Linked DNA regions of Homo sapiens. The protein of the gene in region 2 purifies or fractionates together with the protein of the main gene of each other region. This does not show direct contact. Each region holds a gene or a part of one and is shown on either strand. Other genes may lie near its edges. The genes, in order: MRAP2 and MC3R.

What was found.
Region 1: the proteins of MC3R (region 2) and MRAP2 purify together in Homo sapiens (co-immunoprecipitation; one study listed by IntAct). This does not show direct contact.

What each region holds. Positions count from the first base shown.
Region 1 is NC_000006.12:84,085,549-84,088,679, reverse strand, and holds part of MRAP2 (melanocortin-2 receptor accessory protein 2), read right to left. Parts: intron 1,819-3,131; coding exon of another isoform or gene 1,739-1,818; intron 1,493-1,738; coding exon of another isoform or gene 1,399-1,492; intron 1-1,398. UniProt on the Homo sapiens protein: Modulator of melanocortin receptor 4 (MC4R), a receptor involved in energy homeostasis. Plays a central role in the control of energy homeostasis and body weight regulation by increasing ligand-sensitivity of MC4R and MC4R-mediated generation of cAMP.
Region 2 is NC_000020.11:56,247,026-56,250,435, reverse strand, and holds MC3R (melanocortin receptor 3), read right to left. Parts: upstream 1,705-3,410; 5' UTR 1,593-1,704; coding exon 621-1,592; downstream 1-620. UniProt on the Homo sapiens protein: Receptor for MSH (alpha, beta and gamma) and ACTH. This receptor is mediated by G proteins which activate adenylate cyclase.

The DNA.
Region 1 (3,131 bases), on a different chromosome or scaffold from region 2:
CTAAGGATCATTACTCATACTGAAGTTTAGAACCACCGGCCTAAAAACAATAATACTGTCTCATAGGGGTACATTAAATATTTGCCAAAATGCTATAATATCCATTTTTCTCACTTGATTCTCAAAAGTAACCAATACAGTCAGTTAGGGCAAGAATTATGATGTGCATTTTACAAACGTATGAACTCAGGTAAGGAGCAGTCAAATTGCCCACTTAGTCACACAATCAGTTTGTGGTATGAGTGGGAATAAAACCCAGATTCCTAATTCCTTGTTTCCTTTAACGTGGAACAAATAAGCAGTTCAAGGGTAATAAATGAGTCAATGAGTGAATAAAATAACTCTCAATGAGTCCCACAAGTGCGTGAAAGAAAGAGCCCAGGTAAGCTGAGAACCTGATACTCCATCTACTTTAATCACCATCCTTTCCAGACTTAAAGAAGGATTGCCCATGCACAGGTAGTGACTCCTTAAAGGCACAAATCATGACTGAATGTGTTTTCAAGTCCAGAACAGAACCTGACAAAAATCAAGCCCTGGAGTTTGTGCTCAACAGATGTGTAATCCTCTCAGTGTTTCCAGTTCTTAAATCTCTTCCTTCCCATCCTATCACTCAGGAGAAAGCACTTATGACCAAATTCTGTAAGAATTTGGGCAGAGGTGAAAAACAAAAAAACAAAAACAAAAAAAACACAGGTCTGGAAAACCTGATTGTATATCACTAAACTCCAAATTATCAAAATCACCTGGATTTCAGAGGTCAGCAACCCTAGAAGGTTTGTAATCCAGCTAGCTGAAGGAATTTTAATATCAGATCTGTCTCCTAGCATGGTTACCTGGGTGACATCAAGCAAGAAATCCTTTCAGAAACCTGTATTTTTCCTTTTAATAATAAGCCAGGTTAACAATTTTCACTGCCCACTAAACAAACATGTTGTGAACGTCAAGGGTTTATGCAAGAATCCAATATTCTACTATGTCAGGTATTCAGAATTCAGAGAAAATCATTTTAGAGAGACTGAAGATTTATGCTTTAGTGCAAATTTACATGGTCTTCTTTGTCTTTCTGTAAATGAGTTTCCCTCAACTGTCATTTCTCTCAGGTTTAAAAGATATTTGAGAACAGGGATGAGTGTGCCAGCAACCTGTGACCTGATAAACTAAAATGTCACCTAGGAAAAAGAGTGGCTTAAAGCTGTGAAAGGAAAATATCTTGAACCCCCAAATCACTAAGCTAAAGGGAAAAGTCAAGCTGGGAGCTGCTTAGGGCAAACCTGCCTCCTATTCTATTCAAAGTCACCCCTCTGCTCACTGAGATAAATGCATATCTGATTGCCTCCTTTGGAGAGGTCAATCAGAAACTCAAAAGAATGCAACCATTGTCTCTTATCTACTTACGACCTGGAAGTCCCCTCCCTGCTTCGAGTAGTCCCGCCTTTCCAGACTGAACCAATGTTCATCTTACATATGTTGATCGATGTCTCATGTCTCCCTAAAATGGATAAAACCAAACTGTGCTGTAACCACCTTGGGCACATGTCTTCAGGACCTCCTGAGGCTGAGTCATGGGTGTGTGTCCTCAACCCTGGCAAAATAAACTTTCTAAATTAACTGAGACCTCTCTCGGATTTTGGGGGTTCACAAAGCATTTGGAGAAAGCATAATTAAGATTGCTGGGGTCCACACCATTCCTCAATTCCAAGGCTAAGAAGCTCTGAGAAATAGCTTTTCTGCCTACCTGTGGCACCAGCTGAGTGTGACAGCAGACCCAGAAGCCCAGCTGTGTGTGGCTGCTCTTCCATAACACAGCTATGTTTCCTGGAATTAAAGTCCATTAGTCACCCTTGCTGGAGAACTAAGGCACAAGAGACCAAGAGAATTTTGTCCCTCCCCAGGACAGTGCCAAGGCAGTGGACATTAAAGCCCCTCTGAGGTGCCTTTCCTGCCCCCTGAGGCTACCCTGTGCTCCCATGGCCACCCCCTCCCTTCTGGCTTCCTCCCGATGATCCCTTGGTATGGCAACAGTATGATGTGTCTGATTCTCCCTTCCTGAGAAGAGCAAAAAGTTCATCTTTGTACTCTTAGAGTCCAGTAAATATTAAACACTCAATATACTTGACTTTTATTTGTTTCTTCTTTCCTTGACTGATAAACAAAAGGACCTGTATGTTGTGAAAGTTGTCAGAATAAATATGGAGTCACTTAATGTTATTAAAAAATATCCTGATGAATAGAGCTGGGGAAGGCCATGAAGTGGGAATTCTCACTCACAAATGTCTGATAACAAGAACAATCATGAAAGATGGCAAAAACCATAACCTTGCACAAAAAAATACTTCTATAAGGACATCTGCCCAGCAACTGCCTGTCCAACCTGGAACTGGCACCACCCATATTGTTCCTTGTAGCTAAGGATAACTCTCTCCAAACAATCATGTAATCCTCCTTACTTTTCCTTTAAAAAACTTTGTCTTCTTTTACTTCCCAGAATATGCACATAAGTTATATGGCATGAGTATTTTCATTGCAATGACCCATTACCATGTAAACATCATTTTCTTTTAGAGAACCTCTCAGTATTTGTTATTTAGGTTGACATAAATGGTCTCCAGAAGCGGAACCTGAAGCAAGATCACTTTTGGAAGGAATCAGTGATTCTTGGAACCTGCAGGCTGTGCTCACCTTGAGCCCTTTGAGCTCTCTGCCTCCATGGCTCACCTGTTCTTCCCTGGTGAGTCTTCACTCAGGCTAAGCCCCTTCTTCCTGATAGAGGCTTTTTGACTTTATCTGAGATTTGGTTTGGTTATCAGCCTACCTTAAATGAAGAATGCTGCATCTCTCTTGGAACTATAAAATTCTGTTTTTGGCAAGCTCTTCCTGAGAAGTGTCCTTGTGGAGAGTACTCCGGTTTCTACAACATTTACAATCTGTCTTGGAGACATGTCTTTTCTGGTGAGTTCATTTTTGGTTCTTTCTGCATGCCTAGTTTAATATTTTGTTTGATCTGCATGCCTGGGTTAAAATTTCTGTGAACAATCCGATTTGGGTTTGGTTATGCATGTGTGTAAATGATTTGGCTCTTCCCCTTTGCTTGTTTCTGAAAATCTTTCAAGAGCAAAAATAAACATCCT
Region 2 (3,410 bases):
TCATGCTACCTTTGGGGGTGGGGACAACTGAAGGGATATGGGGGTAAGAAAAGGGGAAAACGGCATAGCATTGCTCCTTTCACAAAGAGACAATTGTCTAACTGTAAATAGAATAATAGAGTAGAACTCAGTCTCCTACGGAGTTATAAGTGCAAAGCTATCTCTCCGTGTAGCTGGCAGCAGGAGGTCGTAGCTGTAACAGGTTTGCTTGCAAGAGATCTGAACCACCCTTATTGTTCATGAGAATCCTTCAGTCTGGTCTGGCCTGGAGCATGAAGACGTGGGTGTGGAGCAGATGAGCAGACAGGCGTCGCACACCCTGGGTGTTTGGAAATGAGTGCAGAGAGCATGCAGAGAAGCCTTCGCTGATTTCTCCCAGTGACTATTTGGGAAATCAGAGTTTGTGACTTACCCATCTTGGAATCCTTTCAGAGAATCTGTTGTTCACCAATTTTCCCCTTTAAAAGGCTTTGTAAACTTAAAAACAAACGACAAGTACAATCATGGCTGTTAACACATTTTTATATTTTCTAAGTATATATATTTTTCTTTCTAAACACCTCACGTGGATGGAAAGTCAAAAGTGACCCGACTGATGATCATTTCCATGGCCCTGCATCCTATCCCAAGTTCATGCCGTTGCAGCCACAGAGAATCTCCCTAAAGGTGTTGCGCAATTCCAGGCTCCGGAAAGCGTAGATGAGTGGGTCGATGACGGAGTTGCACATGATGAGGACCAGGTAGGTGTTGAAGTGGGCAGTGTAGCAGATGCAGTAGGGGTTGGTGGGGCAGGTGATGATGAGGACCAGGTGGAGGAAGAAGGGGGCCCAGCAGAAGATGAACACGCCCAGGAGAATGGTGATGGTGACTGCCCCCTTCATGCATGAGTGTTGCTGTGGGGCCACCCCGTCGGCAGGTGGCAGTGCTGCTATGCGCTTGACGTGCAGCCGCGCAAAGAGGAACATGTGCACGTAGAGGGTGCCCATGAGGAGCATCATGGCGAAGAACATGGTGATGAGGCACACAATGACCATTTTGCTCTCCGAGTAGACGATGAACACCACGCCACAGACGCCGCAGCAGACCCAGATGGCCACGATCAAGGTGAGGGCCTTCCTCACGGTCATGATGCTGTGGTAGCGGAGCGCGTAAAAGATGGTGACGTACCTGTCGACGGCGATGGCCAGGAGGTTGCAGATGGAGGCCACCAGGGAGATGCAGATCATGGAGTCGAAGATGTTGTCCATGTGCTGGATAAACTGGTCCTCGAAGGTCAGGTAGTCGCTGTGGACGATGGCGATCATGATGGTCTCCAGGGCATTGGACACACTTACCAGCATGTCGGCCACCGCCAGGCTGCAGAGAAAGAAGTACATCGGGGAGTGCAGGTTGCCGTTCCTGACCACGGCCAGGATAACCAGGATGTTTTCCAGCAGACTGACGATGCCCAGAGACAGGAAAACCTCGGGCTTGATGAAGACCTGCTCACAGAAGGCGCTGCTGCTCTGGTTGCTGAAGAAAGGGGCTTGGAGGTGCTCCGAGCCATTAGGCAGTGTTGGCTGAACAGAGGGCAGGCAGCACGAAGCATTCATTGCTGTCAGAAGGGCTGATCCGAGCTGGGGCTCCAGCAGGGTCCGTAGGAAGCTGCTGCTGCTCACAGGAAAGACAAAATCTCCCTCCAGATACGTCTTTTGGATGCTCATTCAATCTGGCCTTAGAGTTTATTCTCCTCTAGAATAAAAGGATGGGGAGGGTAGAGAGACAGATAGTGAGAGAGGGTGGAGGAAGAGACAGAGAGAGAGAGAGACATACACACAGAGAGAAAGAGCGAAGGGGGAAGAGAGAGAGAGAGGGAGAGTAGCTAGTTAGTAGCTAGCATGCAAGTTTGTAGCTTGGAGACATAGGGAGAACTTTGCTGTTCCAGGAGGAGCAGTTTTTATCTTGTTTACATAGAAAAAATACACCATAGGGTCTCTTACCAGCTGTCTTCCTTCTGTCTCCCTCTCACCCCTCTGTTTGTCTCTCCTCACTTCCCCACCTGGGAACAGAAAACCTGCCACCGGCTGCTACAGTTACAGCTCTTTTCATGGCAAGACAGGGGATGTGTTACTTGTCGCTAGAAGTGAAGGGAGAACACTCAGGTTTTTCATATTGGCCAAGGGCAAACAACTCCTACTTAATCTTCAGCGCAGCAGAATGACCACTGAGCATCGGGCACCTCTCTGACTGACAGCAGGTACCTGGCCCTGAGGATTCTGCAGGGAGATTAAGAAGCAGACTAGTGCCCTCTGCAGGCCGCACGGCTGTCTGCTTGCTGGCTTGGCTTAGCCCTTTGTGTTTGTCATGGAAACTGCCACAGGCATCCACTCATCTGTTCATTTGTTTGTTTATTTGTTAGTTCATTCATTTGTTGTTGTTGTTTAGCAAACATTTATTGAGCGCCTACTATGTGTCAGGTCTCTGCTGAGTGCAGGAAATACAGTGGTGAGCAAGACAACAGCCACTATCTCAGGCTTCCCCGAACTCAGAGTCTGGGGTGGAAGAAGAGGAATCAATAAATGCTTGAATCAGGAAAGTCCAGGAAACCAGGGATGCAAAGAGGAAGAGCCCTAACCCGGACTGTCAAAGTTCCTGGAGGAAGGAGCACCTATGCTTTGACTTCAAGGAGGAAGAGGTCATATCCAGTTTGGGGTGGGTGGTGGGGTGGGGGCTGGAGCTGGAGGAGGTAGAAGAGGACTCCAGGCAGAGGGAATCACACGTCTGCAGCCTGGAGGCAGAGAGCACCCTGGCCATAGAAGTCATCACAGATTGTGGATGTGGAGATCCCATTTGACCCGCGGAGTCAGAATCACCCAGGTGTAAGACCTGAACAAGTGTGTTTGCAATTTTTGACAGGTGAGCTGGGGCATAGTCACAGTTGAGCTCCACTGAAAAAGAATCTTGGGCTTTTGAAAGTGCTGAAAGTAGTCTGCTCTGGTCAGAGCATGGAAATAGGAGACACAATCTGAGAAATGAGGCTGCACAGTTTCTTAAAAAGTTGAGAGGTGCCTGAATCCTGAAGGACAGCCTCAGCCAGATGTGAGAATTTGGACAGTACCTTGACAGCAATGGGGACTGTGGAAGAAACATAGGTAGGGCAGGAATGAGATGGGGTCTGCATTTTAGAAATATTCCTGGTTGCAGGGTGGAGAATGAATTAGACAGACTGAGCATGTAGGCCAGGGAGTCCGGGGCAGAGGGTGTTGCAAAGACCCAGGGTGAGATGATGGTGGCCTGGAGCAAGGGAGTGGCCATGGGGACTTGGAAGACTTGGAGGGTGGTCAGAGAGATTCAGAAGGTTGGATAATGCAGCTTCAGAACTGATGGGTTATGGGATCATGGGAGAGGGAGCAGTCAGAAACACCTGTACT